Linked DNA regions of Homo sapiens. Each later gene encodes a partner of the first gene's protein in a complex. Each region holds a gene or a part of one and is shown in the gene's direction. Other genes may lie near its edges. The genes, in order: GNAI1, HCAR2, GPR88 and HCAR3.

Region 1 (7,877 bases):
GAGTGAGTCAAGCAGATACCTGGCTCAAGAGTGTTCCAGGCAGGGGGAGCATAAATGCCAAGGCCAATGATGGAGTGTGTTTGGCAAGTTCAAACAGTCTGGAGGTCAGGGAGGCTGAACCAGACAACAAGGAGAATGGCAGAAAATACTATGGGGAGGCACATGGTTAAAAAAAAGGGTAAGTCCTTGTATGCCATCATAAGGATTTTAGATGAGATTTTCCTCTAAGTGAGATGGAAAGTGAATGGATAGTTCTCCCTGACATTTTAAAAGGATGCATCTGGCTGCTAGGTGGGAACAGTAAGCGATTAAGGTAAAAGTAGAGGGAGCAGAAAGCAGGTTATTTAATATTTGATAAATATCTCCAGTGTCTATCAGTAAAGATGGCGATATTTGGCCAAGTTCTGGTTATATTTGAAGACAAAGTTAGTAGGATTTCCTAACAGATTGAATAACTAAGGCTTGCAGGAAAGGAAAGAATCTAGGATGACTCCAAGTATTTGGCCTGAGCAAACAGAAATGTGGAGTTGTTGATTACCGTGTTTTCCTCTGTTCAAGCTCAGCTGAACAGGTATAGTCATACAGAGGCAGAGTAGATTTAACCAGATTTGAAGTTTTTCCTGTTGAATACAATGGTGGGAGTGTTTTGAGGATATTGCAAAGGAATAATTGTCCTGATGGAAGATGGGATATAAGTTGCATAAGGAGAGACATTAGCACATGCAGCACACGACAGAAAGAGAAAAGGCATGTGGTCGGTAGATGGAAGGTCTCTGTGGGACTGGAGAATTGATGGTAATAACGTAACAGAGGGTGAGATGAAAAGGTCTGAAGTGGTGGTCAGAAAGTAGGGTGGCCATATTTTTTCCTTTGTCCCATAACTGTATCAGTCTGTTCTTATGCTGCTAATAAAGACATACCCAAGACTGGGCAATTTATAAAGGAAAGAGGTTTAATTGACTCACAGTTCAGCATGGCTAGGGAGGCCTCACAATCATGGTGGAAGGCAAAGGAGGAGCAAAGTCACGTCTTACATGGCAGCAGGCAAGAAAGCTTATGCAGGAAAACTCCTACTTATAAAACCATTGGCTCTCATGAGACTTATTCACTACCAGGAGAACAGTATGGGGGAATTTGACCTCATGATTCAATTATCTCCACCTGGTCCCACCCTTGACATGTGGGGATTATTACAATTTAACCTGAGATTTAGTTGGGATCACAGTGAAACCATATCAATAGCAATCCTTTTTTCTCAGTTGAATAATATTTGAGAAGAGTTACAAGTGAAATGAAACAAATTCCAAACCTACCTCTCCAACTACCATCCCATGTGTCAACCCCTCTCCATGGTTAAGATTCTTGAAAAAGTCTCCTTATTCAGCTTCTGCATTCTCCATGTTTACTTCTTAATTCCATATGGTAAGTCTCCCATTCACAACATAGCAAGGCAAAATTTTGTTTGCTACAGGTTTCAACACCACCTTGAAGCCAGCTAAAAAAGTCTATTCCTTTTGATTTATGACATCTCTTCAGTCATATCTTCTCATTCCTACATTAAATATCCCCCAATTTCTTCAATTATTCCTTATGACATAGTTTGTAGCTACTTTGAAAACCTGAGGCTCTCAGCTGAATGTGTTCTAATTTGTCTTTTAACATATGTCTCTAACTCTCTTAACATATAATGTTCAGTATTATTCAGAAATAAGAAGAAATAAAGTACTGGTGGATGCTACATGGATGAACCCTGAAAACTTTATGCTAACTGAAGGCAGCCAGTCACAAAATACTGTACACTATATGATTCCTTTTATATAAAATGTCAGAATAGGCAAATCTAAAGAGACAGAAATTAGATTAGCGGTTGTCTAGATCTGGGGAAAGATAAAGGATTGGAGATGATGGCTAAGGAATGCAGAGCTTCTTTTTGTGGTGATGAAAATATTCTACAATTGATTGTAATCATGGTTGCACAACTCTGTGAATATACTGAAAGCCACTGAAGTGTACACTTTAAATAGGCAAATTCTATGGCATATGACTTATATCTCAAAAAAGCTTGAACCCGAGGGAAAAAAAAAAAAAAGCTGTTAAAAAACAAACATGATGTTGAAAAGAAAAAACAGTATTCTGAAGTAGAGTGCTTTAACCTCTATAATTTCAATTTCACTCTGTATAAAAGAGATAAATAAATAATATCTGCTTCATCTCCTTGACAAGGTTGAATCATATTTTGCAACATCATAATTACATAAGTTATTAGCTTGAGTGACTCTCACCACCTCACATTTGGATTACTAACACAATTCACTTGCTGGTACCCATTTGTTTTACATGTAGTGGTAAGAGGGTTTTTTTATTTCTTTGCTTTTTAACATCTAGTACCCAACTCAGGAAAGAATGTAAGGAGCACTTTGTACCCACTGTATCAAGTCCAACCCTTCACCTTAGCATTTAAAGCTGTCTTCCAACTTTGTCCCATACATCCCATCATTCTTCACACCAACTTTGTCCCACACATCCTATCATTCTTCACAACCAAACAACTTTCAGTTATAAAACCATTGTTTTCTCTTTCACGTATCTTGCATATTAACTGTTTAGCTGGTTATTCCCCTCAAACAAAATATACCCTATTATGGCCTGAATGTCTCCAAAGCCCTAACCCACAATACGATGGTATTTGGAGATGGAACCTTTGGGAGGTAATTAGATTTGGATGAGGTCTTGAGAGTGGGGCCTTTAAGACAGGGCCTTTATAAGAAGAGGAGAGACCAGACTGCTTTCAAGCTCTCTCTCTCTTGCTCTGCCATGTGAGGACGCAGCAAGAAAGAGGCCATCTGCAAGGCAGCAGCAGAACCCTCACTGAGGAACTGAATAAACTGGCACCTTAATCTTAGGTTTACCAGCTTCCAGAACGGTGAGAAATATATTCCTATTGTTTCAGCCACTCAGGCTATGGTATTTTTAGGGCAGCCTGAACTAATACATACTTCTTTAAACTCCCCACCAATATCCTGTTATCATTTCCTTCAAACGTTTTTTCAAAACTTTCTTATCTTAGAATTTCCCCCCATACTGATCAGTTCATTACTCTGCATTCTCTTAGGAATTGTGCTACATATAAATCTAATTTGCTGTTCTTATTCGTTTATGTATCACATTTTAACTCACCTATTTGACTAACTTCAAAGGATGGAAGTAATGTTACCTATTTGACAAACTTCTGTTACACATACTTCATTTCTCCGAAACACAAGTTTTGTAGTCATTTCTACCAATATTCAGCCAGCACTGCTTCTTCTTTTGCTGAAACTGTTGGTTCCACACTCTGGTCCGAACTTAATAGGAAAGACTCACCATAAAAGATAATTAAGAATGGCTAATACACAGTGTGTTGAAATTTGATTTCCTTAAGTTTAATTCCAGAGTTCTGATACACATTAGCATTTAGAGTGCCTAGAATTACAGTGTAGAAGGTGACTAAGTACATTTAAAGATTGTTCCTTTTTGTTGTTATATTACAAAAGATTATAGTTGAGGCAGATCTTGAAATTGCATCTCATCAGCCCAGCAGGTGGTGTGACTCCCATAGGAGAACAGGAAAGGACATGTCCCATAAGGAGGCAACTCAGTCTCTGCTAGCTCACAAGCGTGGTCTCAGTGACCTACTCGAAAGCTATTCTGCTTGTATCATCAGTTCAGCCTCACCTTGGAAAACTCAAGCCCAGTTTTCCCAAATGATTTTTAGAGAATAAGATTTCCAGATGAAAACCAGGGAGCATGTTCCAATTTTTAGTACATCAAGGACCATGTTTTTCCTTGCTACCAGCCCCATTTTCTAATCAGTTAACGCTTCCTGTGATATCTGTAGGGGAAAGGTGTAGTGCAACTGACAGGGAGAGATGAGATCTTAAGCCTCTGCTCATTCATTGGGTGCTGAGTAGCAATGCCTCCCGCGGGCCACAGGAACTTATCTCCGCCGATTGTTACAGCTGGAAGGATGGGGAGATAGCACCATAGATCCACTCCTCATTTTATGGGCAAAGAAGCTAAGGCCTGTAAAAATGGCATGCCCAATGGTACAGGAGTTACAAACACGGTCATAAATATTGGCTCCAAATTTGGCATGGAAGCTTATGTGCTGCTCTAGAGGAGATCTGCTACGATGTGGAGATTGGCTTGTGTGGGTGTGTTTTATTGCTCTTGTCATTTAAAAATACTTTTGATTATTTGTCTTCCATTTTTTTTAGGTTACGAGGAAATCCTTCAAAATGCGTTCTTGTGAAAAACGTGAGAGTGCAAGGAAAGAGGGAGGGATAGGAAGAAGGAAAGAGAAGCAAAAGGTAGGAAGAAAGTGACCTTGGTGCCCTTTTCTAGTCCCCTCCCCCGACTTTCCTGTTCTCCACTGTGCCCATCTCTGGTTTCACCAGGCTCCATTCCTTCCCCAGTTCCCTGTTTCTCACGGCCCTGAAACCAGCCGACAGGGATTTGCATTTTGAAAAACCTTGCGTGGCTGCCGGCGCTGGGCATGCTCAAACGCCCAGAACTGGCTTTTTTCGGCAACTTTGGCAGCTCTCCCACCCCCACCCGAAGGGGCAGGTACGCACAGCTCCCTCCGTGTGAGTAAACGGAAAGAAATTACCCCACTCCCGCCCAGGGCAGAAGGCCACAGCCCCGCGGGGCAGTGGCGCGCCCCGGGGACGCTGCCAGGGGGCGCCAGGCCCTCAGTGGTGGCGCGGCGCCGGGGTCCGGGGCCGGGGGGCGCTGTCCGAGGGCACGTGCGCGGGCGCGCGCTCTGGGAGTGGTCGCGGGGTGGTGGGAGGGGCGGGCAGGGGCGGGGCCGCGGCGGCGCGCGGAGGCCGAGCTCGGCTGGGCTTGGCGAGGCTGCGGCGCGGCCACCGGCGGGAGTGCAGCGGCCACTGTACCCAGAGATTCAAAACCCCAAACCCGGGACTTGGGGGCGCTGAGCCGGGCCGGGAAGCAGAGCCTGGTCGTGAGGAACAGCCGCCCGTTGCTGTCTGCCCCTTTGCGGACAGCGTCTCCCTCGACTCCGCTTAGGAAGTGGTGGGGGCGGCGTGGCCCCCGTCGGGAGGCGTTCGAACGCCCGCTAGGAGAGAGAAAGGATTCCCCTGTGCTTGGAGCCCGCACTCGGGCGCGGAGGGAGCGGCGGCAGGCTCTCGCTTTCGGCACCATGGGCTGCACGCTGAGCGCCGAGGACAAGGCGGCGGTGGAGCGGAGTAAGATGATCGACCGCAACCTCCGTGAGGACGGCGAGAAGGCGGCGCGCGAGGTCAAGCTGCTGCTGCTCGGTAAGGGCGGCCGGGTCGGGGCCCGGGGGTCGGCGGGGGACCGGGTGCGGCGCTGCGCGGCCCTCGGCGTTTGGAAACCCGGAGGGAAGGGGGAGGAAGCGCCCGAGGAGGCTTCTGAGCGGGAGCTGGGTCCGGCGGTGCGGAGGCAAGGCGGGTCCCCCTCTCCCGGTGTCTGGTCTCTCTCCGCCCCGGCGGGCGAGGACTCCCCGCGGCGGGGCGGGCGCGTCACTTCACTCGGATGCTTTCGTGCGACCCAGCAAAGAGCCCAGGCGCGAGTCCGAGGCGGCGGGTCGCGTGGAAACCCTTTGCTTTGAAGTTTAGCTCAGCCTTGTAAAGATGAAGGGGCATTCGCGGCTAGAAAATGAAAACACCCCCCCCCCCGCGCCACCAACCCCCTCCCGGAAAACCCTTCTTCGTGTGCGGTGTAGGTTGTGTTTCGACTGTGGTTTTCTCATGCCCAGAGTGCCACGTTTGGTGAAATCAGTGCACCTTTTGTGGGGCCTCTGAGATGGGGCTGAAGCGTCTTTCCTGTTAACTTCCTATGGCGACTCCTTAAGTGGTCAAGGAGCGCTGATTACATTCCCCCTGCGCTGAGAAAAGGCTGCGCTGGATGCTTGATTTTTCTTGCTGTGGGGGCATGGAAGCCACCCAAGTGGGGTTGGGAAGCTTTGCTTTAGTAGTAGGCAAGGCAGATACTCGAGTGGTGAAAACTGCTGTGAAAGAGCGAGAGGGTCACGCCAGACAACAGGGTTCTGTCTCCGCTGCCACCGTTTCTGATGAATGAGATTTGCCAGGTACACGCAAGGCTTTTATTTGTTCTTAGCACTGTTCTGTTCGTGAAACGCTACGTGGAGGTCTTTTCCAAATGTTTGACGGGGAAGAAAATAAAGAGTAAACCAGGGTTTTCACTGAGGGAAGCATTAGGAAAATCTTTACAGGTTAAGATTCGTGAGTTAGGGTTTTCTTTTGTTTGCATGTTTTCTTCTCACACTCTAGGTATTTAGATAGATGAAAAATTTCTCAGAATCTTCATTTGCATTTCCAAGGACTGCTTGTATTTTTATACCAGTTATAATAAAAAAGAAATGTTGCACAAACCTGTTTTCAGTAAGCTTCTGTTTCATTGGTTTAATGACTGCAGAAAAAATGGTGGGTTTTTTTTCTCCATTACTAGTAGGCTTGGGAGCAGCAAAGTTGGCATGACTAAAAGTAATAATGATCTGAGTCATTTTGCAAGTAAACTGTGAAATAACTTTGCATTTTAAAGACCTGGGTGGCTTTTTTCACCCTGTCGCCCCCAACATAAATCTTTCTCAGTTAATGTTGTTTGCCTAAGTTTTTACATTAATAAGAAATACTGTGTTTTGATGAGGTTAGTGTATGTACTTCTCTTGTGAATTGAATGTGAGATAGATATGAAATAAGAGGATTAAGAAGTTTTTTTCTTGCAGTTTTTGCTCTCCTGGTGTGATACGTTGTTTCAGTGTATTTCTGTGTGACTCTTAGTTTGAGCCAGCCATCCACCATGTTTAAAGCAATTGAAAAATGAATCATCTGGTGGTGGTGTTTTGTCCTTTAATTAGGTGACTGTTAGGGATGGACTAGAATAAAGGTCCCAGGAGTAGGCTTTTGCTTATGTTCAGAAGAGATCAGTGTGTCTTGATCTTAGCACGGTTGGCATTTGGGGCTGGGTAATTCTTTGTTCTCCAGGTTGTTTTTGTGCATTGTAGGATGTTCAGCAGCATCTTTGGCCTCCGCTCATTGGATGCTAGTAGCAGCCCCCTAACCTGTGAGCTCCAAAAGTGTTTCCACATATTGCTAGAAGTCCTCTGGGGGCAAAATACAGCGTTAGTTAAGGACCACTGTTCTAGATTAAGACTTAAATATAACTGAATGTATAATACAGAACCAGAAGTTGAATCTTGACAGTCATCATAAGTGAGTTCAGAGAAAGATGTAGCAGAGGCCTCATTTTCAGAAGAAATTATGGAATTCTTATTTCTTTTTCTTTTTTCTTTTTTTTTTTTTCTTTTCTTTTCTTTTTTTTTTTTTTTTTTTTTGAGACGGAGTCTTGCGCAGTCGCCCAGGCTGGAGTGCAGTGGCCCGATCTCGGCTCACTGCAACCTTCACCTCCTGGGTTCAAGCGATTCTCCAGCCTCAGCCTCCCGAGTACCCGGGACTACAGGTGCGTGCCACCATGCTCGGCTAATTTTGTATTTTTAGTAGAGACCGGGTTTCACCATGTTGGCCACGCTGGTCTCCAATTCCTGACCTCAGGTGATCCGCCCGCCTCAGCCTCCCGAAGTTCTGGGATTACAGGCGTGAGCCACCTTGCCCGGCCAGAATTCTTATTTCTCTAAACCAGTACTGGTACCATTGGAAATATTTCAGAATGATTTTTAGAAATCTTTAAGTGACTGAATTCTTTTGGCTGTCTTTTCTAGCTTTGGTCTTTTGCTTTTCCCTACCTCTCTCCTCTCTGGAAATCCTGGCTGTCCCTGCTGGCCCAGCACTCTCCTCTGTCTTATCCCCGTTCTAGTCTACCCTTTTGCCCAGAGTTCC
Region 2 (6,517 bases), on another chromosome or scaffold:
TTTTTCTTCCACTTTTCTGACTTGGACTCAATAAAATTGCTACTACCTTTTTTCCTGAGGCCCTGTAAGCTGAAGCTTATTCTTTTAATATAGGTGGCAAAAACATGTCAGATTACCACTGCCTTCCTGCTCTATAACTAAAGGTATTTTGAGTTTCACATCTGGATAAATTGTGCCCAACATTAACTTTTGTTTTTCTTATATTTCCATAGAAATGCCTCGTATTAAAAATCTGTTTGTCTTCATCATGTATAGAGGCCTAGCCCGTGTGCAATGCCACCTCCTGATATGGGAAACAGCTGTTTAACTGAACTGATCTAGTCCCAGGACTAGGAAACTGATTAATAATATATGGGACAGTGTATTTAAACTTGCTCCTTCCTGGCTGACTATAGGTGCATTGCCTATGAGTTAGCCCTGATCCACAAGGAGCAGTACCAAATAAAATAAAGTAAAATAAAATGAAATTCACTCATTCTTGTCTATCCCAATATGTTTGTCCAAAAACCTTTGACCCAACTCTCTCTGCTAGTGACCCATGTCTGACTGATTCTTGGAGCTATTCACCTGGATCCCTCAGAGCTTAAGATCAATTCTACAAAGGCTTCTTCTTCTTTTTTTTTTTTTTTCCATAGACAAAGTCTCACTTTATTGCCTAGACTAGTCTTGAACTCCTGGGCTCAAGCAATCCTCCTGCCTTGGTCTCCCAAAGTGCTGGGATTATAGGCATGAACCACCACGCCTGTGTTTGTTGTTGTTTTTTTTTTTTTGAGACAGAGTTTCCCTCTTGTTGCCCAGGCTGTAGTGCAATGGTGTGATCTCGGCTCACCGCAACCTCCGCCTCCTGGGTCCCAGTTCAAGCAGTTCTCCTGCCTCAGCCTCCTGAGTATCTGGGATTACAGGCATGTGCCACCACACCCAGCTAAATTTTGTATTTTAGTAGAGATGGGGTTTCACCATGTTGACCAGGCTGGTATCAAACTCCTGACCTCGTGATCCACCCACCTCAGCCTCCAAAAGTGCTGGGATTACAGGCGTGAGCCACCGTGCCCGGCTTTTTTTTTTTTTTTTTTTTTTTTTGGTGGAGTCTCACTCTGTCACCCAGGCTGCAGTGCAGTGGCACAATCTCGGTTCTCTGCAACCTCCAACTCCCTGGTTCAAGCGATTCTCCTGCCTCAGCCTCCCAAGTAGTTGGGATTATAGGCGCCCGCCACCACACCCAGCTAATTTTTGTAAATTTTAGTAGAGACGGGGTTTCACCATATTGGCCAAGATGGTCTGGATCTCCTGACCTTGTGATCCTCCCGTCTCGGCCTCCCAAAGTGTTGGGATTACAGGCGTGAGCCACCATGCCCGGCCATGCTCTGCTCTTATGAGCTGGGTGGCCCTGAATATTTTATCCTCTCTGAGCTTCACTTTCCTCATTTTGAAATCAGAATCAGTAATAATACCTTCCACATGGGCTACAGTCAGGGTGAAACAAGCAACTATAAAAGCACTGAGCTCCTGGCTAACACGGTGAAATCCCGTCTCTACTAAAAATATAAAAAATTAGCTGGGCATGGTGGTGGGTGCCTGTAGTCCCAGCTACTCGGGAGGCTGAGGCAGCATGGCGTGAACCCGGGAGGCGGAGCTTGCAGTGAGGCAAGAGCGAGACTTTGTCTCAAAAAAAAAAAAGCACTGAGTATGGGTTCCAGCACATGGGAAGCTCTCTATAATGTAGGTGCCACCATCATCTTCTTCATCATCGTCTTCATCTCACCTGGATCATCATCAAGTACTTGTAGTTCTATGGGAATCTAATATTAGGTCATCCTGACTCTAGTTTACTGTGAAGAGTCTATAAGCTCCTATTATTGAACCTGCGTTTGCAGCTAAAGAAATAAATTGACATCTTATGGTGGCAGCGATGGTTCACACCTGCAATCCCAGCATTTTGGGATGCCAAGGCGGGAGGATCACTTGAAGTCAGGAGTTCAAGACCAGCCTGGCCAAAATGGTGAAATCCATCTCTACTAAAAATACAAAAATTAGCCAGGCATGGTGGCTTGCACCTGTAGTCTCAGCTACTTGGGAGGCTGAGGCAGGAGAATGGCATGAACCCGGGAGGCAGAGGTTGCAGTGAGCCAAGATCATGCCACTGCACTCCAGCCTGGGCGACAGAGCGAAACTCCATCTCAAAAGAAAAAACAGAAAAAAAAAAAAAAAGGAAGAAATTTACATTTTATAACTCAAAGTAGAAGGAACACAATTTAGAAACCTCCTGCATGGAAGAATTCATAAGACCAAAATATTAAAGGGAGAAAACATTCTATAGGATGACACCCAATCGCACTGACAAGCAGAGAAACAATGTGTGCAATGGTGTCCCGCTACAAGGCGGGGTTCCATGTCCTCTTAGGTCCTGTCACTCTAAGTTTAATTTTACAAAAATGGGGGCTTTGAAAATATCACATACTTAGTGGGGGAGGTTTTGCGTGTGTGGAGACAGAGTGCACAGGACCGTCCGTACTTTCTGCTCCATTTTGCTGTGAATCTAACACTGCCCCAAAAAATAAAGTTCATTAAAAAAAATCACGGCCAGGCGCGGTGGCTCACGCCTGTAATCCCAGCACTTTGGGAGGCCGAGGCAGACGGATCACAAGGTCAGGAGTTTGAGACCAGCCTGGCCAACACAGTGAAACCTCGTCTTTACTAAAAATACAAAAAATTAGCTGGGCGTGGTGGCGCACGCCTGTAGTCCCAGATACTCAGGAGGCTGAGGCAGAAGAATTGCTTGAACCTGGGAGGCGGAGGTTGCAGTGAGCTGAGATTGTTCCACCGTTCTCCAGCCTGGGTGACAGAGTGAGACTCTGTCTCAAAAAAAAAAAATCACATCCTAAGGTCCCAAGGACATAAAACAAGTTAGAGACCTCATCCAGTTTTTTGTTTGTTTCAGGGACCTGCAACCAACTTTCTTACTGACCAGTTTCCTGGGCTGTCTAGAACAGACAGCTTATGGGGTACTAACCCCATGCTCTATCCTAAGGTACCCCTCTTCATGCAGAGCGACACAGAAAAACAAATTTGTAGCACAAAGTACACCCGATTTGCTACAGCTTACGACTAGCCTCATGAATCCTTTTTCTCATTAATTCAAAGTTTGCAAAAAAAAGAAATCACATACTTAAAAATAAATCACTTGAGCACAGAAGCATATCAAAATCTAATATAAACAAACAAAAAACCCAACTTATGTTAACATGCCACTGAAACTGGGCTCAAGTTTTCAAATGTCTTATGAAATATTACACTCTCCAGCAGGCTATTTTTTTTTTCCTAACTGGAGATGAATGGCAGAGTTCTGATATGGAAAAGCACTCCATGTTTGTACAGAAAGGTAGCATAGGAAAAGTGGTCAAATTCAACCAGTCTGTCCTCATCAAACAGGCAACTACTGTCTTCTCAGCATTTCCAAAAGAAATCATATGTCTGCTACTGTTTATGTCATATGCCTGTTAATTTTTCATGCTAATTCTTAGTGTTTCTGGAAAACCTCACTGTTTGGCACCAAAAATTGTTATTGCTATTGTTGTTGTTTTGTTAATTATGTCAGCCAAGCAGATGACGGTGAATTAATTCTGCAACGTTGAGTACTCAGTTGGCATACAAGCACCCAGCCTTCCAAAGGGATGTCCTTCATGTTTCACTGATTTTCGAATGACAGTCGGCTTGCCTAAACTTATCCTTTACATTTAAGACATTTTGTGGGTTCCCGTCTGCCCAGGGGATTCTTATTACTTGTTTATGCAAACAGCAGGTTGCATAAGAGCCTTGCTGGCTTTTTTTTTTTTTTTTTTTTTTAGAGATTTCGTAGTTTCCTGGTAACCATTCAGTCATCTATTTCAACACCCTGACATGACATAAAGGCAGGCGTGGAACCACACGTTCACCACACAGACACACACCTCCTTGCTGGAGCATTCACTAGGCGAGGCGCTCCATCGGACTCACTAGCCGCACTCATGAATCGGCACCATCTGCAGGATCACTTTCTGGAAATAGACAAGAAGAACTGCTGTGTGTTCCGAGATGACTTCATTGTCAAGGTGTTGCCGCCGGTGTTGGGGCTGGAGTTTATCTTCGGGCTTCTGGGCAATGGCCTTGCCCTGTGGATTTTCTGTTTCCACCTCAAGTCCTGGAAATCCAGCCGGATTTTCCTGTTCAACCTGGCAGTGGCTGACTTTCTACTGATCATCTGCCTGCCCTTCCTGATGGACAACTATGTGAGGCGTTGGGACTGGAAGTTTGGGGACATCCCTTGCCGGCTGATGCTCTTCATGTTGGCTATGAACCGCCAGGGCAGCATCATCTTCCTCACGGTGGTGGCGGTAGACAGGTATTTCCGGGTGGTCCATCCCCACCACGCCCTGAACAAGATCTCCAATCGGACAGCAGCCATCATCTCTTGCCTTCTGTGGGGCATCACTATTGGCCTGACAGTCCACCTCCTGAAGAAGAAGATGCCGATCCAGAATGGCGGTGCAAATTTGTGCAGCAGCTTCAGCATCTGCCATACCTTCCAGTGGCACGAAGCCATGTTCCTCCTGGAGTTCTTCCTGCCCCTGGGCATCATCCTGTTCTGCTCAGCCAGAATTATCTGGAGCCTGCGGCAGAGACAAATGGACCGGCATGCCAAGATCAAGAGAGCCATCACCTTCATCATGGTGGTGGCCATCGTCTTTGTCATCTGCTTCCTTCCCAGCGTGGTTGTGCGGATCCGCATCTTCTGGCTCCTGCACACTTCGGGCACGCAGAATTGTGAAGTGTACCGCTCGGTGGACCTGGCGTTCTTTATCACTCTCAGCTTCACCTACATGAACAGCATGCTGGACCCCGTGGTGTACTACTTCTCCAGCCCATCCTTTCCCAACTTCTTCTCCACTTTGATCAACCGCTGCCTCCAGAGGAAGATGACAGGTGAGCCAGATAATAACCGCAGCACGAGCGTCGAGCTCACAGGGGACCCCAACAAAACCAGAGGCGCTCCAGAGGCGTTAATGGCCAACTCCGGTGAGCCATGGAGCCCCTCTTATCTGGGCCCAACCTCTCCTTAAATAACCATGCCAAGAAGGGACATTGTCACCAAGAACCAGGATCTCTGGAGAAACAGTTGGGCTGTTGCATCGAGTAATGTCACTGGACTCGGCCTAAGGTTTCCTGGAACTTCCAGATTCAGAGAATGCGATTTAGGGAAACGGTGGCAGATGAGTGGGAGACTGGTTGCAAGGTGTGACCGCAGGAATCCTGGAGGAATAGAGAGTAAAGCTTCTAGGCATCTGAAACTTTTGCTTCATCTCTGACGCTCGCAGGACTGAAGATGGGCAAATTGTAGGCATTTCTGCTGAGCAGAGTTGGAGCCAGAGATCTACTTGTGACTTGTTGGCCTTCTTCCCACATCTGCCTCAGACTGGAGGGGGCTCAGCTCCTGGGGTGATATCTAGCCTGCTTGTGAGCTCTAGCAGGGATAAGGAGAGCTGAGATTGGAGGGAATTGTGTTGCTCCTGGAGGGAGCCCAGGCATCATTAAACAAGCCAGTAGGTCACCTGGCTTCCGTGGACCAATTCATCTTTCAGACAAGCTTTAGCAGAAATGGACTCAGGGAAGAGACTCACACGCTTTGGTTAATATCTGTGTTTCCGGTGGGTGTAATAGGGGATTAGCCCCAGAAGGGACTGAGCTAAACAGTGTTATTATGGGAAAGGAAATGGCATTGCTGCTTTCAACCAGCGACTAATGCAATCCATTCCTCTCTTGTTTATAGTAATCTAAGGGTTGGGCAGTTAAAACGGCTTCAGGATAGAAAGCTGTTTCCCACCTCTGTTTGCTTTTAACATTAAAAGGGAAATGTGCCTCTGCCCCACAGTTAGAGGGGTGCACGTTCCTCCTGGTTCCTTCGCTTGTGTTTCTGTACTTACCAAAAATCTACCATTTCAATAAATTTTGATAGGAGACAGTCTGGCGTTGCTATATCTGGGTTATGGTTCACAGAAATGGACTTCTTACTTAAGCAGAGACCTTTATGGGTTGTTAACTCTGTCCTGGTAGAAAACTACTCCACACTGCAAAGTAAGAAAGAGACACAGACACTGAGCTACATCATGAAACAACTAAGCAGAAATTACACCTGTGTCTAAACAAAGATAGAAAGAGCTGGGATTAAAAATAATTTGGAAGGATAGTACAGATAGGATCGCAAGAGCACTTACATTTTATTAGAGTTTGGTGAATATTGCTCTTAGTATTTGTGCATTAAACAGGGAATCAAGGCCAGGTGCAATGGTTCATGCCTGTAATCCCAGCACTTTGAGGGGACCGAGGTGGGCAGATCACCCTGAGGTCAGGAGTTTGAGACCAGCCTGGACAACATGGCGAAACCCCACTTCTACTAAAAATACAAGAAAAATTAGCCAGGCATGGTGGCGGCCGCTTGTAGTCCCAGCTACTGGGAAGGCTGGGGGAAGAAGAATTGCTTGAA
Region 3 (6,917 bases), on another chromosome or scaffold:
GCAAATTTAGGTGGGGGGGGTGGGGGAGACTGGGTACCTTGTCACCCTGGCATGAGGAATAAATGTAACAACAGATAAAAAATACTCAAAGCATGGCTTGGCACATATGGTATGTACTCGACGGCATTGAAAATAATGATGTTTATGATTCTCCTGAAATCTTAAAAAGGAAGCTGGCTGCCCTCCCTTCATCTTTCTCCATCTCTGTGGGCTGGAATGTGGATGTGGATGTAGCAGTGGTGAAATAACTCCTGGGGGGAATTTTATCTTAACCTTGACACTAAGAAAGGACAAGATGGCACAAGAAAAATAAACCAAGTGGGCTTTACTTATGATGCAAAACTCTTAAATAAAATACTACCAAATAGAATCCTACAGTCTATCTTTAAAAGGATAATATATTGTAACCAAACAGGGTTTATCAGAGGAATGCAAAGATGATTCAACTTTTAAAAATATATCAAATGTAACCTACTACATCAACAGCTAAAAAAAAATTCACTTCATATAAAAGTCATACTAGAAATAGATAGAAATGTCTCTAACTTATAAACAATATATCAGAAAACTATAACAAACACCATATTTGATAGTGAATTATTAGAAACACTAGGGTAACAATGGGGACTATTAACCAAATCAGTGACCATAGGAGAATGAGTGGGATGAGGAGGGAGAGAGGCCAGCCGAATGGAGAGTTCCAACACGTCTGCAACTCTGGAAAGAAGTAAGCTTGGTGGGAAAGAATCTGTGGGTGACCCATAGGCGAGAGTGGAAGGCAGGAATCAGATGAGATCAATTAGGGAGAGAGAGTAGGGTGAGAAGAGAACCAAGAAGAGAAGCCAGGAACACTATCTTAAAGGAGCCATGACACTGGGGAGCCAGAGACTGAGTCTGGAAGGGAGCAGACAGAGGAACAGAAGCAAAGGGAAACCTGGAGGGAAATGGCACTGAGGAGGAGGGTGTTCTTCACAGAGTCAAAGTAGAGGGCAAGGATTTAGGAGTCACGATTTGCTACTGAGAGGCTACTGTTAACCTTGGCCAAAGCTGTTTCTGTGGAGCAGGGAGAGCTAAGGGCCGTGTGGGTGGGTATTCAATGGTAAAATCAGAAGTAGAAGGAGAAAATGAGCACTTCCATCAGGAAGGGGAAGTGAGCTGTGTGTAGGCACCATGAGAAGGAGGTGAAGTTCCAGGGGAGTTTTATGAGGTTGTGGTGAAATCAGCATTTTTGTAAGTCTGAAGGGGAGCAAGCAGTGGAGAGCAGAGAGACTGACAAGAGACAGCAGAAAGCAGATGACTGATGGGGCAAGTTCCTGCTGAAGGTGGGAGGAAAGAGATGCTCATAAAAGTGAATTACTGTTTCACCGTGGAGAAAACATAAATGAAATCATTTACACTGCCATTCACTTATTAATTCAGTAAGTATTGATTAAGTTTCTACTATGTCCCAGGCACTGACCTGGTGCTGGAAATAAGATAGAAAAAATTCCCACCCTATATTATGTAAGTTCATTAACTTAAAACAAAAGGAAAACCAAATCCAGAAACAAACAAAAATTTGGCCCCTGTCAGGCCAGCGCTAAGGGAGGCATGGTCTTGGAGGAAGTGTGTGTGACTGCCAGGCACTGGAGTCCCTCAGCAGGAATGCTGCTCGTCTCAAAGGCAACACAAAGTGGCAGCTGGGACCAGGGATCCAGAATTTGAATACCCTCCCACCACATTCTATCAGAGAGTCCTTTAGGACTATGTTAATGTGAGAGAAAAAACTTTACTTCAATGGCAAGTTTTAACTATGAATGATTAGGAGAGTCTCCTTTCTCCTGAAACATTGCTCTTAGGGACAGAGTGGAAAAGACTCCTGGACATATGGGCCAGAACTACAATGCATGTTACAGAGAAGAGGTATACGCCATGTGTCATAACTAGAAAGGAGAAATGCAGGCTTGCTGTGCTTAATGCACTCAAAACCTCAATAAGGACAAATGGCAATAGGCAAAAAGATGATGACAAATACTCATCTCATTTACATCAGTAAACTTGATATCGAAACCTTCAACCCTCTGAATAGCAAGTCACTGGTTCTTTTCTTTCACTTCCCCCTCCGGCCCCTGCCCCTGCCCCAACCAATTTCATTCAGATATAGCTTAGCTGGACCAAATCTATCAAGTCATGCTTATCCTTAATCCTCATCAGAGTTCTTGAAGTCATCAACTAACCATATTGATTTTGAAATAGAAAAAGAAAAGCAGAGAAGCTGTGTTTTGACCTCTCTCCTGAAACATTGCTCTTAGGGACATATGACCCAGAACTACAACTGCAATGCATGTTAGATAGAAGAGGTATATGCCATGTGTCATAATTAGAGAGAAGAAATGCTAAATTCATGAATAGGGATTCACAGAAAGTTTTAACAGAAAGGGCCTTTGAAGTGACTGACTGTGAACTTATTTGACAAGATGAAAATAATCCATCGCAAGGCTACATGATGGATGCTCGGCTTAGTATCTGGGTGTGCTGCAACCCCACCTAACATTTTTTTCTATTATGCCATGTTACCATATTCCCATATTGAGTTACATTTTCAAATACATGACTTTTCCAGTGAATAATTGAGAGAACTCCTTTTCTGAAAAAATTCCCACATGGAATGGATAAATGAACACTTGCACCAAAGAAGATGCCAACATCAGACTGCAAATCTCCAAGACAGACAAGACAAAAAGTTCTGAAGTGAAAAGTCATCTTTGTTCACACTGTGGATTATTCAGGTTTCTTGCTTTCCCCCTGACACACATTTTTTTAAAATTGACTTTATTTTTTTAGAGCAATTTTAGATTCATGGCAAATTTGAGTGAAAGATACAGAGATTTCCCATGTACTCCCTGCCCCTCGCATACATAGCCTCTCCCATTATCAAAATCCCCCACCAGAGTGGTTCGTCTGTTACAATTGAATGTACGTTGACACATCATTCCCCAAAGTCCATGGCTTACACTGATGTTTCACATTCTGCCACTTTGGGCAAATTTATAAGTACACAGATCCACTATTATGGTATCATACAGAGTAGTTCCACTGTCCTAAGAATCTTCCGTGATCATCTATTCATTCCTCCTTTCCCCCTAACTCGGGCAACCACTGGTCTTTTTAACTGTCTCCATAGTTTTGCCTTCTCAAGAATGTCATAGTTGGTAGCATACAGTATGTAGTCCTTTCCAGTTGGCTTCTGTCACTTAGTGATACACACTTAAGGTTCCTTCATGTCTTTTCATGGCTGGACAGCTCATTTCTTTTTAGCACTGAATAATATTCCATTGTCTAGATGTACCACTGACATCTGCTTTAAATCTTTTGCCCATTTCATTTTTACCCTCTAACCATTTCATTACTAAAACACAAAACAAACTCCGGAAAGGAGTTTGTTGATGAGAAAACACTGAAAGTACGATTTAAATTGAGGAATGGAGATTTTCTGTGGATAATTGTCTATGTTCCACTTTACCAAAGAAAAATGAATTTCAAGTAGTGCATAAAGTAATTCTCGTTAAAAAATGTGGGAATAAAGAGATCAGTCCTGGGTACTGGGAATATATTTATCTCACAGAAAAATCTTGCCCACAAAATGCATCAGACTGAGATGAAATACTCTAGGGTATATTAAATTTTATTCTAATATTGAAGGGAGGGAAAAAAAGGACGGAAAGAAAAATGAAACAGGATGAAAAATAAGGTGATTGGGAGAGAGAAAAGACAGAGAAACTTGTTAACGACAGGACTTTCTGAGCAAGATATTTTTCTTCCTTTTACAAGTTGGAAGCTATTGAATAATTCATGCCAAGCGTGGAAAGGCTGTCTTTTCCCTGGATGATGTATAACTAAGCAGGAGAGAGCTTCGAGTGGGTTCACCACATCAGCCACCACTCCTGCTTCTGAGCACAGGGTGCTCTCCTCTTGAGCTCAGCTTCTGCTTTTGCAGCCAAGCATTCTTGCTGCTGCTGCCTGCCTGCCCACCCGCCTGGGCTTGCAGCCCGCCACTTTACTTTCTCCAGCCCTGATACCAGCTGAGAAGTCTCCCTGCAGCTGCTAGTTCCTGCCCAGGACCATGTGTGTGGATGCTGCTTGGGAGAAGCGGGCACTTGCTCCTGGCACTGATCCCAGCTGAGTTTCTCCTGTTGATTTCTGGACCACTGATGCTGTTGCTGAGGAGGTATTTCCCGGCATCCCTCCCCCTGAGACACCGGCTAAGGACCAGCCTAAACGCAAGGTAACCTTCACCTCTTTCCCATGGGATTTTCCCCAGCTGGGATATCTCTGCTTTCTCCTGGAACTAGGTCCTCCAGCTGGCAACATATCTCTCTCTCTCTCTCTCTCTCTCTCTCTCTCTCTCTCTCTGTGTGTGTGTGTGTGTGTTGGGGGAGAAGAGGAGACTGTTTTAGGTATTGCTCTGTCCTAGGGCTTCCCCGATACCTGCTGAATCCAATGCAAAGTGGCCTTTCCCCTGGCTCTGGAGACATTTCCGAGGCAGGCACCTGTCATCTGCCACCCCCGTCCTCCTCCTCGAGCTCCCTTTCTCCCCCTCCCCCAGCCCATTATTCTGCTTCAGCCTTTTGTGTCAGTGGCAGAGGGCTGAAGGGATGTCTTTGCCCTTCTGGCAGGCAGGACAGTGTCAGGATGGACCGCGCTGCCAGAAGCCGACGCTAGCGAGGGAGGTGTGAAGAGTTGGCCAGAATGACCAACTCCTCCTCCACATCCACCTCCTCCACCACCGGTGGCTCGCTGCTGCTGCTCTGCGAGGAAGAGGAGTCGTGGGCGGGCCGGCGCATCCCGGTGTCACTCCTGTATTCGGGCCTGGCCATCGGGGGCACGCTGGCCAACGGCATGGTCATCTATCTCGTGTCGTCCTTCCGAAAGCTGCAGACCACCAGCAACGCCTTCATCGTGAACGGCTGCGCCGCCGACCTCAGCGTCTGCGCCCTCTGGATGCCGCAGGAGGCGGTGCTCGGGCTCCTGCCCACCGGCTCTGCGGAGCCCCCCGCAGACTGGGACGGCGCTGGGGGCAGCTACCGCCTGCTACGGGGTGGGCTGCTGGGCCTCGGACTCACGGTGTCCCTCCTCTCCCACTGCCTCGTGGCCCTGAACCGCTACCTGCTCATCACCCGGGCGCCCGCCACCTACCAGGCGCTGTACCAGAGGCGCCACACGGCGGGCATGCTGGCGCTGTCCTGGGCGCTCGCCCTGGGCCTCGTGCTGCTGCTCCCGCCCTGGGCACCGCGGCCCGGCGCCGCGCCACCGCGAGTCCACTACCCGGCGCTGCTGGCCGCCGCGGCGCTGCTGGCGCAGACAGCTCTGCTGCTGCACTGCTACCTGGGCATCGTGCGCCGCGTGCGTGTCAGCGTCAAGCGGGTCAGCGTGCTCAACTTCCACCTGCTGCACCAGTTGCCCGGCTGCGCCGCCGCCGCCGCCGCCTTCCCGGGCGCCCAGCACGCGCCGGGCCCCGGTGGCGCCGCGCACCCGGCGCAGGCCCAGCCCCTGCCGCCCGCGCTGCACCCGCGGCGGGCACAGCGGCGTCTCAGCGGCCTGTCGGTGCTGCTGCTCTGCTGCGTCTTCCTGCTGGCCACGCAGCCACTGGTGTGGGTGAGCCTGGCCAGCGGCTTCTCGCTGCCGGTGCCCTGGGGAGTGCAGGCGGCCAGCTGGCTCCTGTGCTGCGCCCTGTCCGCGCTCAATCCGCTGCTCTACACGTGGAGGAACGAGGAGTTCCGCCGCTCCGTGCGCTCAGTCCTGCCGGGCGTCGGCGACGCGGCGGCCGCTGCCGTTGCCGCCACAGCCGTGCCCGCAGTGTCCCAGGCGCAACTGGGCACCCGCGCCGCGGGCCAGCACTGGTAACCTAGCCGGGGCCCGAGGGAAGCGGAGATCCCCGGCTTCCGACGTCCTTGGGCACCGTCGCCTCCTTCCCTCCTAGGGCATCCCCTGCCTGAACGAAGACTTCCGCCGCGAAGCCCGATAGATCGGGGGAAAATGGGGCCTTCGACCCCAGCGGGCTACCTGAACCAAGGCGTCTCTTTAAGTGGGGCGCCCGAAGTCATTTTGGACGGCCACCTGATTTTTACCCTTTGTTTCTGTGTTTTAGAGGAATCCTAAAGTCAAAACACCAGAGACTTGAAGAACTTGCAAACTGGCGTTTTAAAATAACCGGTTAATTTATTTCCACACAGTTTGTTTTTGAAAAAGAGCTTTCATAATGTATAACCCTTTCCACTTTCATCGTCTTATATATGAAGCGCCTTGAGTGTGCATGAACCAAAGGAAATAACATTGAAGAAGGAAAACAATATGTAGAAAGTATTTTAGAAAGTAACCTGTCTTTGATGATGCTTCTCTTACCATTTAGTTTTTGTATATTACCCTGGGGCAGTGAAGCCCTAGGTGTGCCCACCAGTATGAGTTGCCATTAAGACCTCAAGCCCTTTATTCTTAAAAGGGTTTTTAATAAAGTCTTTCTCAAATGAGGTAGAATCTTAGCCAGTGAGAAAAAAAATTATTTTATGCTCCTTTTTTTTCGCACTCTTAAGACTGAAAATTGGCGTTGAGTGTTATAGTGAAAATTTTCCAGTTTGATAATTGATGGTCAGAGCCAGCACTGGAATTTTGAAAACAAATAAGGTGATTATCTATTTTAGGTACCGTTTCACATTTTCTATAGCATGCACACTTGTTGCTACCCTCATTTTGTAACCAATTTATTTGCCTTATGAATGTGATTGCAGCTTTGAACATTCTGTACTATAATGGTTGCTAAGAAGAATAAGTCCTTCTGTTTTCTCTTTAACATTTAAAATATCTCAATGCACATGATATAATTAAACACTAATAATACCATGACTGCATAGCTAATATTAGCTGCTATTGCATGCTCCTAG
Region 4 (6,459 bases), on another chromosome or scaffold:
AGGCCTGGCCTGTGGTTGTTTTTTTCTAATTTTATCCATGACTATTGTTTAAAAAAAAACACACACACAAAATATTATGAAATTGTGAAACTTAGAAAGGGAGAGTCCCTTGCAAATTTCAGCTTCTAGAAATAAATACTGCTGACTTCTCTGACTCTTAGTTAATAAAGGCCCTTAGGATTACTTTATGAATGTTGTTGACAAGTGTCCACATACATCCAAGAAGGAAGCATGGTATTCACAGGCAGCAAGAACAAGAAACAAATACCAATTATTTCACTAAAGCCTGAACAGCATGACCTCCATCCCCACCATGCCCTGAGCAAGATCTTCAACCTTACAGACAAGGCAATAACATAGTAAGAGGCAGTGAGCATGATGGTTAGGGACACAGGCTTTGAAGTCACTGCCAGATTCAAATCCAAGCTCAGCTGTTTTTTTTCTTTTAGTTTTGAGACAGGATCTCACTCTGTCACCCAGGCTGGAGTGCATTGGCACGATCTAGGCTCACTGCAAGCTCCGCCTCCCTGGTTCATGCCATTCCCCTGCCTCAGCCTCCCAAGTAGCTGGGACTACAGGTGCCCGCCACGACGCCTGGCTAATTTTTTGTTTTTGTATTTTTAGTAGAGACAGGGTTTCACCGTGTTAGCCAGGATGGTCTCGATCTCCTGACCTCGTGATCCGCCCGCCTCAGCCTCCCAAAGTGCTTGGATTACAGGCGTGAGCCACGGCGCCTGGCCTCTGTTTTTTTTTTTTTTTTTTCTAAACAGAGTTTCACTCTTGTTGCCCAGGCTGTAGTGCAATGGCGTCATCTCAGCTCACCGCAACCTCCGCCTCCTGGGTCCCAGTTCAAGCAGTTCTCCTGCCTCCGCTACTGAGTAGCTGGGATTACAGGCACGCGCCACCACACCCAGCTAAATTTTGTATTTTTAGTAGAGATCTGATTTCACCATGTTGACCAGGCTGGTATCAAACTCCTGACCTCGTGATCCGCCCACCTCAGCCTCCCAAAGTGCTGGGATTACAGGCGTGAGCCACTGTGCCCGGGTTTTTTTGTTTGTTTGTTTGTTTGTTTGGTGGAGTCTCGCTCTGTCACCCAGGCTGCAGTGCAGTGGCACAATCTTGGTTCACTGCAACCTCCAACTCCCTGGTTCAAGCGATTCTCCTGCCTCAGCCTCCCAAGTGGCTGGGATTACAGGCGCCCGCCACCACGCCCAGCTAATTTTTGTATACTTTAGTAGAGACGGGGTTTCACCATATTGGCCAAGATGGTCTGGATCTCCTGACCTTGTGATCCTCCCGTCTCGGCCTCCCAAAGTGTTGGGATTACAGGCGTGAGCCACCGCGCCCGGCCATGCTCTGCTCTTATGAGCTGGGTGGCCCTGAATATTTTATCCTCTCTGAGCTTCACTTTCCTCATTTGAAATCAGAATCAATAATAATACCTTCCACATGGGCTACAGTCAGAGTGAAACAAGCAACTATAAAAGCACTGAGCTCCTGGCTAACATGGTGAAACCCCATCTCTACTAAAAATACAAAAAATTAGCTAGGCGTGGTGGCGGGTGCCTGTAGTCCCAGCTACTCGGGAGGCTGAGGCAGCATGGCGTGAACCCAGGAGGCGGGGCTTGCAGTGAGGCGAGAGCGAGACTTTGTCTCAAAAAAAAAAAAGCACTGAGTATGGGTTCCAGCACATGGGAAGCTCTCTATAATGTAGGTGCCACCATCATCTTCATCATTGTCTTCATCTCACCTGGATCATCATCAAGTACTTGTAGTTCTATGGGAACCTAATATTAGGTCATCCTAACTCTAGTTTACTTGAAGACTCTATAAGCTCCTATTATTGAACCTGCGTTTGCAGCTAAAGAAATAAATTGACATCTTATGGCCGGCAGTGATGGTTCACACCTGTAAGCCCAGCACTTTGGGATGCCAAGGCGGGAGGATCACTTGAAGTCAGGAGTTCAAGACCAGCCTGGCCAAAATGGTGAAATCCATCTCTATTAAAAAATACAAAAATTAGCCAGGCACGGTGGCGGGCACCTGTAGTCTCAGCTACTTGGGAGGCTGAGGCAGGAGAATGACTGGAACCCAGGAGGCAGAGGTTGCAGTGAGCCACTGCACTCCAGCCTGGGCGATAGAGTGAAACTCCATCTCAAAAGAAAAAAAAAAAAAAAGGAAGAAATTTACATTATATAACTCAAAGTAGAAGCAACATAGTTTAGAAGTCTCCTGCATGGAAGAATTCATAAGACCAAAATATTAAAGGGAGAAAACATTCTATAGGATGACACCCAATCGCACTGACAAGCAGAGAAACAATGTGTGCAATGGTGTCCCGCTACAAGGCAGGGTTCCATGTCCTCTTAGGTCCTGTCACTCTAAGTTTAATTTTACAAAAATGGGGGCTTTAAAAATATCACATACTTAGTGGGGGAGGTTTTGCGTGTGTGGAGACAGAGTGCACAGGACCGTCCGTACTTTCTGCTCAATTTTGCTGTGAATCTAAAACTGCCCTAAAAAATAAAGTTCATTAAAAAAAAAAAATCACGGCCAGGCGCAGTGGCTCACGCCTGTAATCACAGCACTTTGGGAGACCGAGGCGGGTGGATCACAAGGTCAGGAGTTCGAGACCAGCCTGGCCAACACAGTGAAACCTCGTCTTTACTAAAAATACAAAAAATTAGCTGGGCGTGGTGGCGCACGCCTGTAGTCCCAGATACTCAGGAGGCTGAGGCAGAAGAATTGCTTGAACCTGGGAGGCGGAGGTTGCAGTGAGCTGAGATTGTTCCACCGTTCTCCAGCCTGGGTGACAGAGTGAGACTCTGTCTCAAAAAAAAAAAATCACATCCTAAGGTCCCAAGGACATAAAACAAGTTAGAGACCTCATCCAGTTTTTTGTTTGTTTCAGGGACCTGCAACCAACTTTCTTACTGACCAGTTTCCTGGGCTGTCTAGAACAGACAGCTTATGGGGTACTAACCCCATGCTCTATCCTAAGGTACCCCTCTTCATGCAGAGCGACACAGAAAAACAAATTTGTAGCACAAAGTACACCCGATTTGCTACAGCTTACAACTAGCCTCATGAATCCTTTTCTCATTAATTCAAAGTTTGCAAAAAAAAGAAATCACATACTTAAATCACTTGAGCACAGAAGCATATCAAAATCTAATATAAACAAACAAAAAACCCAACTTATTTTAACATGCCACTGAAACTGGGCTCAAGTTTTCAAACATCTTATGAAATATTACACTCTCCAGCAGGCTTTTTTTTTTTTCCTAACTGGAGATGAATGGCAGAGTTCTGATATGGAAAAGCACTCCATGTTTGTACAGAAAGGTAGCATAGGAAAAGTGGTCAAATTCAACCAGTCTGTCCTCATCAAACAGGCAACTACTGTCTTCTCAGCATTTCCAAAAGAAATCATATGCCTGCTACTGTTTATGTCATATGCCTGTTAATTTTTCATGCTAATTCTTAGTGTTTCTGGAAAACCTCACTGTTTGGCACCAAAAATTATTATTGCTATTGTTGTTGTTTTGTTAATTATGTCAGCCAAGCAGATGACGGTGAATTAATTCTGCAACGTTGAGTACTCAGTTGGCATACAAGCACCCAGCCTTCCAAAGGGATGTCCTTCATGTTTCACTGATTTTCGAATGACAGTCAGCTTGCCTAAACTTATCCTTTACATTTAAGACATTTGGTGGGTTCCTGTATGCCCAGGGGATTTTTATTATTTGTTTATGCAAACAGCAGGTTGCATAAGAGCCTTGCTGGCTTTTTTTTTTTTTTTTTTAGAGATTTCGTAGTTTCCTGATAACCATTCAGTCATCTATTTCAACACCCTGACATGACATAAAGGCAGGCACGGAACCACACGTTCACCATACAGACACACGCCACTTTGCTGGAGCATTCACTAGGCGAGGCGCTCCATCGGACTCACTAGCTGCACTCATGAATCGGCACCATCTGCAGGATCACTTTCTGGAAATAGACAAGAAGAACTGCTGTGTGTTCCGAGATGACTTCATTGCCAAGGTGTTGCCGCCGGTGTTGGGGCTGGAGTTTATCTTTGGGCTTCTGGGCAATGGCCTTGCCCTGTGGATTTTCTGTTTCCACCTCAAGTCCTGGAAATCCAGCCGGATTTTCCTGTTCAACCTGGCAGTAGCTGACTTTCTACTGATCATCTGCCTGCCGTTCGTGATGGACTACTATGTGCGGCGTTCAGACTGGAAGTTTGGGGACATCCCTTGCCGGCTGGTGCTCTTCATGTTTGCCATGAACCGCCAGGGCAGCATCATATTCCTCACGGTGGTGGCGGTAGACAGGTATTTCCGGGTGGTCCATCCCCACCACGCCCTGAACAAGATCTCCAATTGGACAGCAGCCATCATCTCTTGCCTTCTGTGGGGCATCACTGTTGGCCTAACAGTCCACCTCCTGAAGAAGAAGTTGCTGATCCAGAATGGCACTGCAAATGTGTGCATCAGCTTCAGCATCTGCCATACCTTCCGGTGGCACGAAGCTATGTTCCTCCTGGAGTTCTTCCTGCCCCTGGGCATCATCCTGTTCTGCTCAGCCAGAATTATCTGGAGCCTGCGGCAGAGACAAATGGACCGGCATGCCAAGATCAAGAGAGCCATCACCTTCATCATGGTGGTGGCCATCGTCTTTGTCATCTGCTTCCTTCCCAGCGTGGTTGTGCGGATCCACATCTTCTGGCTCCTGCACACTTCGGGCACGCAGAATTGTGAAGTGTACCGCTCGGTGGACCTGGCGTTCTTTATCACTCTCAGCTTCACCTACATGAACAGCATGCTGGACCCCGTGGTGTACTACTTCTCCAGCCCATCCTTTCCCAACTTCTTCTCCACTTTGATCAACCGCTGCCTCCAGAGGAAGATAACAGGTGAGCCAGATAATAACCGCAGCACGAGCGTCGAGCTCACAGGGGACCCCAACAAAACCAGAGGCGCTCCAGAGGCGTTAATCGCCAACTCCGGTGAGCCATGGAGCCCCTCTTATCTGGGCCCAACCTCAAATAACCATTCCAAGAAGGGACATTGTCACCAAGAACCAGCATCTCTGGAGAAACAGTTGGGCTGTTGCATCGAGTAATGTCACTGGACTCGGCCTAAGATTTCCTGGAACTTCCAGATTCAGAGAATCTGATTTAGGGAAACTGTGGCAGATGAGTGGGAGACTGGTTGCAAGGTGTGACCGCAGGAATCCTGGAGGAACAGAGAGTAAAGCTTCTAGGCATCTGAAACTTGCTTCATCTCTGACGCTCGCAGGACTGAAGATGGGCAAATTGTAGGCGTTTCTGCTGAGCAGAGTTGGAGCCAGAGATCTACTTGTGACTTGTTGGCCTTCTTCCCACATCTGCCTCAGACTGGAGGGGGCTCAGCTCCTGGGGTGATATCTAGCCTGCTTGTGAGCTCTAGCAGGGATAAGGAGAGCTGAGATTGGAGGGAATTGTGTTGTTCCTGGAGGAAGCCCAGGCATCATTAAACAAGCCAGTAGGTCACCTGGCTTCCGTGGACCAATTCATCTTTCAGACAATCTTTAGCAGAAATGGACTCAGGGAAGAGACTCACATGCTTTGGTTAGTATCTGTGTTTCCGGTGGGTGTAATAGGGGATTAGCCCCAGAAGGGACTGAGCTAAACAGTGTTATTATGGGAAAGGAAATGGCATTGCTGCTTTCAACCAGCGACTAATGCAATCCATTCCTCTCTTGTTTATAGTAATCTAAGGGTTGAACAGTTAAAACGGCTTCAGGATAGAAAGCTGTTTCCCACCTGTTTGCTTTTACCATTAAAAGGGAAACGTGCCTCTGCCCCACGGGTAGAGGGGTGCACGTTCCTCCTGGTTCCTTCGCTTGTGTTTCTGTACTTACCAAAAATCTACCATTTCAATAAATTTTGATAGGAGACAGTCTGGCGTTGCTATATCTGGGTTATGGTTCACAGAAATGGACTTCTTACTTAAGCAGAGACCTTTATGGGTTGTTAACTTTGTCCTGGTAGAAAACTACTCCACACTGCAAAGTAAGAAAGAGACACAGACACTGAGCTACATCATGAAACAACTAAGCAGAAATTACACCTGTGTCTAAACAAAGATAGAAAGAGCTGGGATTAAAAATAATTTGGAAGGATAGTACAGATAGGATTGCAAGAGCACTTACATTTTATTAGAGTTTGGTGAATATTGCTCTTCATATTTGTGCATTAAAAAGGGAATCAAGGCCAGGTGCAATGGTTCATGCCTGTAATCCCAGCACTTTGGGGGAGCCAAGGCGGGCAGATCACCTGAAGTAAGGAGTTTGAGACCAGCCTGGACAAAATGGTGAAACCCCACTTCTACTAAAAATACAAGAAAAATTAGCCAGGCATGGTGGCGGCCGCTTGTAGTCCCAGCTACTGGGAAGGCTGGGAGAAGA

The links.
Region 2: the proteins of GNAI1 (region 1) and HCAR2 are in contact, whole or in part, in a cryo-EM structure (PDB 9IQT), measured with the Homo sapiens proteins. Residues at the interface, in NP_002060.4 of Homo sapiens: Ala31 (codon at 5,288), Arg32 (codon at 5,291), Leu194, Asp315, Thr316, Glu318, Phe336, Asp337, Thr340, Asp341, Ile343, Ile344, Lys345, Asn347, Leu348, Lys349, Asp350, Cys351, Gly352, Leu353; in NP_808219.1 of Homo sapiens: Lys60 (codon at 4,182), Ser62 (codon at 4,188), Arg63 (codon at 4,191), Leu66 (codon at 4,200), Asp124 (codon at 4,374), Arg125 (codon at 4,377), Arg128 (codon at 4,386), Val129 (codon at 4,389), Pro132 (codon at 4,398), His133 (codon at 4,401), Ala135 (codon at 4,407), Asn137 (codon at 4,413), Lys138 (codon at 4,416), Leu215 (codon at 4,647), Arg218 (codon at 4,656), Met220 (codon at 4,662), Arg222 (codon at 4,668), His223 (codon at 4,671), Ala224 (codon at 4,674), Lys225 (codon at 4,677), Ile226 (codon at 4,680), Ala229 (codon at 4,689), Ile233 (codon at 4,701), Ser298 (codon at 4,896), Pro299 (codon at 4,899), Ser300 (codon at 4,902).
Region 3: the proteins of GNAI1 (region 1) and GPR88 are in contact, whole or in part, in a cryo-EM structure (PDB 7EJX), measured with the Homo sapiens proteins. Residues at the interface, in NP_002060.4 of Homo sapiens: Arg24 (codon at 5,267), Glu28 (codon at 5,279), Ala31 (codon at 5,288), Arg32 (codon at 5,291), Tyr320, Asp337, Ala338, Thr340, Asp341, Ile344, Asn347, Leu348, Lys349, Asp350, Cys351, Gly352, Leu353, Phe354; in NP_071332.2 of Homo sapiens: Ser66 (codon at 4,924), Arg138 (codon at 5,140), Leu141 (codon at 5,149), Ile142 (codon at 5,152), Pro146 (codon at 5,164), Ala147 (codon at 5,167), Gln150 (codon at 5,176), Gln154 (codon at 5,188), Ile215 (codon at 5,371), Arg218 (codon at 5,380), Val219 (codon at 5,383), Ser222 (codon at 5,392), Val223 (codon at 5,395), Arg225 (codon at 5,401), Val226 (codon at 5,404), Ser285 (codon at 5,581), Val286 (codon at 5,584), Tyr336 (codon at 5,734), Arg339 (codon at 5,743), Asn340 (codon at 5,746).
Region 4: the proteins of GNAI1 (region 1) and HCAR3 are in contact, whole or in part, in a cryo-EM structure (PDB 8JEI), measured with the Homo sapiens proteins. Residues at the interface, in NP_002060.4 of Homo sapiens: Glu28 (codon at 5,279), Ala31 (codon at 5,288), Arg32 (codon at 5,291), Leu194, Asp315, Phe336, Thr340, Asp341, Ile343, Ile344, Lys345, Asn347, Leu348, Asp350, Cys351, Gly352, Leu353, Phe354; in NP_006009.2 of Homo sapiens: Lys60 (codon at 4,147), Ser62 (codon at 4,153), Arg63 (codon at 4,156), Leu66 (codon at 4,165), Asp124 (codon at 4,339), Arg125 (codon at 4,342), Arg128 (codon at 4,351), Val129 (codon at 4,354), Pro132 (codon at 4,363), His133 (codon at 4,366), Asn137 (codon at 4,378), Lys138 (codon at 4,381), Ser140 (codon at 4,387), Leu215 (codon at 4,612), Arg218 (codon at 4,621), Met220 (codon at 4,627), His223 (codon at 4,636), Lys225 (codon at 4,642), Ile226 (codon at 4,645), Ala229 (codon at 4,654), Phe232 (codon at 4,663), Ile233 (codon at 4,666), Ser298 (codon at 4,861), Pro299 (codon at 4,864).

The regions. Positions count from the first base shown.
Region 1 is NC_000007.14:80,129,964-80,137,840, forward strand, and holds the start of GNAI1 (guanine nucleotide-binding protein G(i) subunit alpha-1), read left to right. Parts: upstream 1-4,867; 5' UTR 4,868-5,197; coding exon 5,198-5,315; intron 5,316-5,820; exon of another isoform or gene 5,821-6,109; intron 6,110-7,877. UniProt on the Homo sapiens protein: Guanine nucleotide-binding proteins (G proteins) function as transducers downstream of G protein-coupled receptors (GPCRs) in numerous signaling cascades.
Region 2 is NC_000012.12:122,700,771-122,707,287, reverse strand, and holds HCAR2 (hydroxycarboxylic acid receptor 2), read left to right. Parts: upstream 1-3,930; 5' UTR 3,931-4,004; coding exon 4,005-5,096; 3' UTR 5,097-5,995; downstream 5,996-6,517. UniProt on the Homo sapiens protein: Acts as a high affinity receptor for both nicotinic acid (also known as niacin) and (D)-beta-hydroxybutyrate and mediates increased adiponectin secretion and decreased lipolysis through G(i)-protein-mediated inhibition of adenylyl cyclase.
Region 3 is NC_000001.11:100,534,239-100,541,155, forward strand, and holds the start of GPR88 (G protein-coupled receptor 88), read left to right. Parts: upstream 1-3,900; 5' UTR 3,901-4,264; intron 4,265-4,655; 5' UTR 4,656-4,728; coding exon 4,729-5,883; 3' UTR 5,884-6,917. UniProt on the Homo sapiens protein: Orphan G protein-coupled receptor implicated in a large repertoire of behavioral responses that engage motor activities, spatial learning, and emotional processing. May play a role in the regulation of cognitive and motor function.
Region 4 is NC_000012.12:122,714,248-122,720,706, reverse strand, and holds HCAR3 (hydroxycarboxylic acid receptor 3), read left to right. Parts: upstream 1-3,895; 5' UTR 3,896-3,969; coding exon 3,970-5,133; 3' UTR 5,134-5,951; downstream 5,952-6,459. UniProt on the Homo sapiens protein: Receptor for 3-OH-octanoid acid mediates a negative feedback regulation of adipocyte lipolysis to counteract prolipolytic influences under conditions of physiological or pathological increases in beta-oxidation rates.